2 linked regions of the Homo sapiens genome follow. The gene in region 1 interacts genetically with each later gene. Each region holds a gene or a part of one and is shown on either strand. Other genes may lie near its edges.

Region 1 (3,624 bases):
CCAGGAGTTTGAGGCTGCTGTGAGCTATGATCATACCACTGCACTCCAGCCTGGGTGACAGAGCAAAACCTGTCTCTAAAAAAAGAAAAAGGCAACATGAGGGATACTGTTGTGGTGGAACTGTTCAGTATGTTGTTTTGTGGTGGATACCCAAACCTACACAGGTAATAAAATTGTATAGAAATTAATACACACAAAAATGCAAGTAAAACAGGAAATCTGAATAAGATCAGATAGTATCTTGATTATGATATTATACTATAGTTTTGCATAATGTTACCATTGGGATAAACTGGGCAAAGTGTATAAGGGACCTTTTTGTATTATTTCTTTACAACTGCATATGAGCCTATAATTTTCTCAATAAAAATTTGTATTTGAGGCTGGGTGCAGTGGCTCATGCCTATAATCCCAGCACTTCAGGAGGCTGAGACGGGAAGATCGCTTGAGCCTGGGAGTTCAAGACCAGCCTGGGCAACATAGCGAGACCCCATCTTTCCAAAAAAGAAAAAAAAAATTAGCCAGGTGTGGTCACATGCACCTGTAGTCCCAGCTACTCCAGAGACTGAGGCAGGAGGATCACTTGAGCCCAGGAGTTTCAGGTTGCAGTGAGCTGTGATTGTGCTACTGTGCTCCAGCCTGGGAGACAGACCAAGACCCTGTCTCAAATAATATAATTAATATATTTCTATTTGAAAAAAAAAAAAAAGACCAGAGCAGTATCCTAAATTGGGTCCTAGCCAAACTGTCTTCACTGGCCTAAGGAGACTGGTGGGAAAGAAAACTAGACAGGAAGCTGTGTGCCCACACAGCTCCCCGCTTCCCCGCTCCCTGCCCTAACCCCACTCCAGGTGCTGCTCTCCCTGCGCATTTTGCTACTGATGAAGCCCAGTGTGCTATCCCGAGTCAGCCACCAGGTTGCGTATGGGCTCCATGAACTCCTGAAGACCAATGCAGCCAACATCCACTCAGGTGATGACTGGGCCACACTCTTCACACTGCTGGAGTGCATCGGCTCAGGTGTGAAGCCTCCAGCTGCTCTGCAGGCCACAGCCAGGGCAGATGCACCTGATGCCGGTAAGCCCTTTCCCAGGGAGACTCAGGCTGGCAGATAAACAGTTACACCCCAGGAGTTGGGACAGGAAAACAAAACACAGGTTACTGTGTTCAGCAGATTAAACAGCCCTGGCTCCTGCCATCACTTCCAGAGCTTCCAGTGCCCGCTGGCTAGTACCCATAAGTTAAATAGCATGAGGGCAAATAAGCAATGCAGACGGCTGTGAAGCCAGGCTTCCTACTGTCCTGAGGACTGATTTGTCCTGAGGACTGTTTCCCAGTTTCTGTTTCTGAGCTGTCCCGAGGACTGTTTTCCCAGAATTCTGGGAAAATAGAATTCTGTGAGCAGACTTTATATCACTAAATCGATACATCACTAAATCCCAGAAACTGGGAAAACAGTCCTCAGGACAGTGGAAAGCCTGGCTTCATAGCCTTCTGCATTGCTTATTTGTCCTTGCCACCACTCCCTAGAGTGGTGCTACAGCTGCCACTAGATGCCATCAGGAACCCAGATTAGCCTGCCACCTTATTTGGTCAACAGAGAAACTGTTCCGGCCATCCTTTGGCCCTCTGGTGACAGAAATTAAACTATGCCAGAGAGAGGGGAGGCCAGGCCTCAGCATCTTTTTTCTGAGAGCCTGATTTATCCCTCATCCCAGTGCCCCATCCCCACCCTGACTCTGCCCTTCTCCCTGCCTACCATAGGGGCCCAGTCAGATAGTGAGCTCCCATCCTACCATCAGAATGACGTGAGCCTGGATCGAGGGTACACTTCCGACTCAGAGGTCTACACTGACCATGGCAGGCCGGGCAAGATACACCGATCAGCCACAGATGCCGATGTGGTCAACAGTGGTTGGTTAGTGGTGAGTGACAATATGGGCAGCAATTGAGTCTCTCCTGCTTGACCTGTGGGAAGAATTCCTGGTCCTCTGCAAGGACATTCACACAGGGGCCAAGCCTGTGTCCCCAGCTCCTCTGTGTACTTTACAGGTTGGGAAGGATGACGTTGATAACTCCAAGCCAGGGCCCAGCCGCCCAGGCCCTTCACCCCTGATCAATCAATACAGCCTAACAGTGGGACTGGATTTGGGGCCACACGACACTAAGTCTCTGCTTAAGTGTGTGGAATCGCTGTCCTTCATTGTGCGTGATGCTGCCCACATCACACCTGACAACTTTGAGCTCTGCGTCAAGACTCTCCGGATCTTTGTGGAGGCCAGTCTGAATGGCGGTGGGTCAGCTGATGAGGGGGCAGCTGGGGAGTAGCCATGCAATTATGCAGGGGAGAGGCTGAGAGGGGAGAAAAGGCAGGGTATCTATGCCTATATAGACACAGAAATGTGACCTGAGTCTGGCTCTGCTCAGGATGCAAGTCCCAGGAGAAACGTGGCAAGAGTCACAAATATGACAGCAAAGGGAACCGCTTCAAGAAGAAATCCAAAGAGGGATCAATGCTTCGCCGGCCTCGAACCTCCAGCCAACATGCCTCTCGGGGCGGGCAGAGTGATGATGATGAGGACGAAGGCGTGCCTGCCAGCTACCATACGGTGTCTTTACAGGTCAGTCAGGACGTAAGTATGGCACCCTTTACTTCCTCTCCTCCCCTGCACCTGATACTGGGAGCCTGGGGCGGCCAGGGAAAGCCAGGGCTGAGGGGAAGGGCCCATGTGTGCCAGCCCAGGCCCTGGACCACCATCTTCACAATATTCCCTTACCCAAAACCTTACCTGTAAGTCTTTATTTGCTTAAATTTATTTATTTATTTATTTTTATTTTTATTTATTTATTTATTTATTTATTTTTTGAGATGTAGTCTCTCTGTCACCCAGGCTGGAGTGCAGTGGCGTGATCTCGGCTCACTGCAACCTCCACCTCCCGGGTTCAAGCGATTCTCCTGCCTCAGCCTTCCAAGTAGCTAGGACTACAGGCGCGTGCCACCATGCCTGGCTAATTTTTTGTATTTTTAGTAGAAACGGGGTTTCACCATGTTGGCCAGGATGGCCTTGATCTCCTGACCTCGTGATCCGCCTGCCTCGGCCTCTCAAAGTGCTAGGATTACAGGCATGAGCCACCACACCTGGCCTTTAAATTTATTTTTAAACTAAGATTTACTTATTTTTTGAGTAGGTTCAAAATATACAAAAGGGTAAACTGATAAAACTAAGTTTCCAATCCATTCCTGTCCCCAGCTTCTGAGTTCCCCTCACTAGAGGCAGCCACTGTCACCAGTTTCTTGTCTATCCTTCCAGAGTTACCCTGTGTCTATTCAAAGGCATATAAAATTAATTATGTGAGCAGAGTTTATATCACTAAATTGATGGAGAACCAATTGCCTTAAATAGAATAACCATACAAAAATGACAAAAGTGGCTGGGCTTGGTGGCTCCTGCCTGTAATCCCAGCACTTTGGGAGGCCGAGGCGGGTGGATCATGAGGTCAGGAGATGGAGACCACCCTGGCTAACACGGTGAAACCCCGTCTCTACTAAAAATAGAAAAAATAGCTGTGCATGGTGGCAGGCGCCTGTAGTCCCAGCTACTCGGGAGGCTGAGACAGGAGAAT
Region 2 (3,777 bases), on another chromosome or scaffold:
ATTAGACTTTGTGTTTTTTTATTACAATTTGGGACAGTGTGCAATATGAATTTGCACTTTGCTGCTAATAAACTCATTGGGATATTTGTAAGCTATTATTTTTCCATTACTGAACACAGTCCTCCATTCTCAAAACCCTTAGGCAGATGTTAGCAGGGATGAAATACAGGTGCCTGTGCTGGATACTGAGGATGCGTGGCTCTCCGTGGAAGGACCAATCTCCATAGTGGAACTGGCCCTTGAACAGAAGCACATCCACTACCCACTGGTGGAGCACCACTCCATCCTGTGCTCCATCTTGTATGCAGTCATGAGGTTTTCTCTGAAGACCGTGAAGCCACTTTCACTTTTTGACAGTAAGGTAAGTACCTCACAGGATTTCAGAGCTATTTTGGAGTTGCAGGCTTAGCAGACACATGGATTTTCATATTTAATAGAAGCTGTCCAGTACTTTTGTGACTGGTATAATTTGGTGTGAGGTTCCAACTCCCTCATTCCCTGCTTGATTCCGTTCTTTTTATTTACCTTCTGTACTGCTCCCCTTGGAGTTTTGCCCTCTCAGCTGTCTGCTCTTCTCATTCTCCATATTATTCCTGGACAGACTCATTTTCTCCCTCTTATATATCTCTAGGCCTGACCAATCCCTAGAGTTTGAGGCATTCATTTCTTTTGAACTTCTCTCTTTGAGTGTCTTATAGGACTTCAGACACCTCATATCTAAAATATATCTGCAAACCAATACCCACATCCTGCCCCTAACCTAAATTTGCTGTTCCTTCTGAATTCCCTGACTTGGTTATTTTATTAACGATGTCATCATTTTTGCCCTGGCAAAAACTAGAAACTTTGAAGTTATCTCACCAATTCCTTACTTCAAGCCAATTTTCTTCATTGTAAATTCATTCTTGTAAATTCTGCCATAGATCATGCCTGTCCGTTTCTCTCCATGACTATAACCCTAGTTCAGGCATAATCATCTTTCCCTCGGCTATTACAACAGCCCTTTCTTAATCACGCTGCCTCCAGTTTCTCTCTCTCCAGTCCCATGCTGCAAGAGCTGTCTTCCTAAGAGACAGGTTTAATTGTATTAGTTCTATACCTAAGATTTTTTTTGGCTCCTCTGCAGGATCAAGTCCAAATTTGTGAGTAGAATATGTTTTTACATATTCTATTGTAACCTTCACAGTTTAGCTGCAGTGGATAGTAAAATCCTTTCCTTCCCCACGCAGGTGTCAAATTTTGAGAGACAGGACAAACTGTTGGAGACAAAAACGTCAACATTATTACTTAGCTTTTTACTGATAGAAGCTGGGTTAGAGAACACAGCTTAGGCTTGTGGGAAAGTGGGTTTATTATTTCACCCTTAAATGAGAGACTCCCGGACAGTCATGGTGGCTCACACCTGTAATCCCAGCACTTTGGGAAGACAAGGTGGGCAGATCACTTGAGGTCAGGAGTTTGAGACCAGCCTGGCCAACATGGTGAAACCCTGTCACTAGTAAAAACACAAAAACTAGCCAGGCATGGTGGTGTGTGCCTGTACTCCCAGCTACTTGGGAGGCTGAGGCAGGATAATCGCTTGAACCTGGGAGGCAGAGGTTGCAGTGAGCCAAGATCACACCACTGCACTTCAGCCTGGGCCACAGAGTGAGACTCTGTCTCAAAAAAAAAAAAAAGTATAGATTTTGAATGAGTTAGTATATCTTTGAGAATATAAGCGATAAGAGTACTTAAAAGTTAAAAAAGAGAAAGAAATACCAAAATAAAGTGCCTAGCTCAGTATTCCCATCAGAAAAGGCCTTTGTGAAACCAGAACACATCCAGAATTGGATTAGCACAATAATGTTTAGTTTCAACCCATGTCATGCCAAGACTACCTGAGACAGCTGGGTGACACTCATCTGCAGAGAGCTAGTATGGTTGAGTGGCTAGTGAAAACAATCCCGGTGCTACCATTTGCTAACTAGAATTATTTAGATTTTCTTACTCTCAGTTTTCTCATTCAGAAAGTAGCAGTGCCAGCCTCATGGTTGTTGTAAGGGTTCCTTGTATTCAACATGAAGTACTTAGCAGCATCTGGAATGTAGTAAATAATAAGTGGTGCTATTATAGATGCTATAGCTAGGACCACCAGGTGGGAACTATCGAGTAACAGATTGTGAGTGTATGCTAAATCTTTAAATACTTCTCTCAGTGATGTCCAAAATGTCATGGGTTGCCCTGTAAGTCCGGTTTTTCTTATCACTAAAGGATGAGTAGCTTTAATCTACTTGGCAGTCACAACAGATGACCTAGAATCACAGATGATTAGGTATGGAAGGCACATTGGAAGATACCTAGGATGACCTGCTTGCAGAAGAAGAAACGGTAACCCAAGATTGTGGGTCATTTACCCAAGGCAACCTGGATGGAAGTGGTGAGCCTTGGACTAGACCCAGGTCTTTCAACTTAAAGGCCAATGTTCTTTGCTCTGTATTACATTTCCTTCCAAGGAACTTCTAAAATCCTGTTTCCTGATATTCTGTTTTTACTCTTTAGACACACATCTGTTCTTTTAAATAAGGTGTTTTTAAACAATTCAACAAGTGTTTTTAAAAGGATTCAGAGGCTGGGCGCGGTGGCTCATGCCTGTAATCCCAGCACTTTGGGAGGCTGAGGCGGGCAGATCACCTGAGGTCAGGAGTTTGAGACCTGCCTGGCCAATATGGTGAAAACCCCGTCTCTACTAAAAATACAAAAAAATTAGCCTTGGCGTGGTAGTACACGCCTGTAGTCCCAGCTACTTGGGAGGCTGAGGTGGGAGAATCGCTTGAACCAGGAAGGTGGAGGCTGCAGTGAGCTGAGATCACACCACTGTACTCCAGCCTAGGCAACAGAGTGAGACTCTGTCTCAAAAAAAAAAAAAAAAAGGATTCAGGGTACATATATGTATTACTTAGCTATTACTGCGGAGTAAATCATCCCAAAACTTGGCTGAAAATAACAAATATTTATTATCTCACAGTTGTTGTGGGTCAGTAATCTGTGTTCTCCTTATCTAGGTGCCTCTGGCTTAGTCTCTCATGAGGCTGTAGTTAAGGTGCTGCATCTGAAAGCTCAACTGGGATGGGGACAGGGTGATTCACTTCTAAGCACAATTGTTGGCAAGATTCAGTTATGCCACATGTGCCTCTCCATACAGCAGCTCACAACACGGAACCTGGCTTCCTGCAGAACAAGTGAGAGTGAATATGAGTGCCTCAAGGCAGAAGAAGCAGTCTTTTGGAACGTGGTCTTGGAAGTAACATGTATCACCTCTACCTGCTTCTGTTGCTAGAAGCAAGTCATCAGCCTCCATGCAAGGAGAGGAGACTATAGGAAACACGAATACCAGGAGGAGGGGATCACTGGGTTTCATCTTAAAGGCTGTCTACTATATACTAGATAATTGTTATAAAAATTATTCTAAAATCTTACTGTTCAAGGAGAAATAAAAATCAACCATAAGTTATTATTAAGTTTTAAACAAATCTTTCTCCCTCTCCCCCCTTAATAATCCACACTCATCAGTTTTCTTGCTCTCTTTCTTTTTAGGGAAAAAATGCATTTTTCAAAGACCTAACTTCAATTCAGTTATTACCTAGTGGGGAAATGGATCCAAATTTTATTTCTGTACGACAACAGGTAAATTATAGCTATTGGATTTTGTTTTTGTTTCTTGGAAAAAAAAACATAAGGGAAAAATCTAGCTGGCTTTTGAAAAGAATGACTACTTTCTATCGCAAGGACAGAAAACCA

Evidence for each region. Genes that interact genetically often act in the same process or in processes that back each other up.
Region 2: changes in GBF1 (region 1) and RAB3GAP2 together harm fitness more than expected from each alone (negative genetic interaction), as found in Homo sapiens cells (one study listed by BioGRID).

What each region holds. Positions count from the first base shown.
Region 1 is NC_000010.11:102,374,508-102,378,131, forward strand, and holds part of GBF1 (Golgi-specific brefeldin A-resistance guanine nucleotide exchange factor 1), read left to right. Parts: intron 1-851; coding exon 852-1,077; intron 1,078-1,764; coding exon 1,765-1,925; intron 1,926-2,052; coding exon 2,053-2,293; intron 2,294-2,427; coding exon 2,428-2,633; intron 2,634-3,624. UniProt on the Homo sapiens protein: Guanine-nucleotide exchange factor (GEF) for members of the Arf family of small GTPases involved in trafficking in the early secretory pathway; its GEF activity initiates the coating of nascent vesicles via the localized generation of activated ARFs through replacement of GDP with GTP.
Region 2 is NC_000001.11:220,153,854-220,157,630, reverse strand, and holds part of RAB3GAP2 (rab3 GTPase-activating protein non-catalytic subunit), read left to right. Parts: intron 1-142; coding exon 143-361; intron 362-3,573; coding exon 3,574-3,663; intron 3,664-3,777. UniProt on the Homo sapiens protein: Regulatory subunit of the Rab3 GTPase-activating (Rab3GAP) complex composed of RAB3GAP1 and RAB3GAP2, which has GTPase-activating protein (GAP) activity towards various Rab3 subfamily members (RAB3A, RAB3B, RAB3C and RAB3D), RAB5A and RAB43, and guanine nucleotide exchange factor (GEF) activity towards RAB18.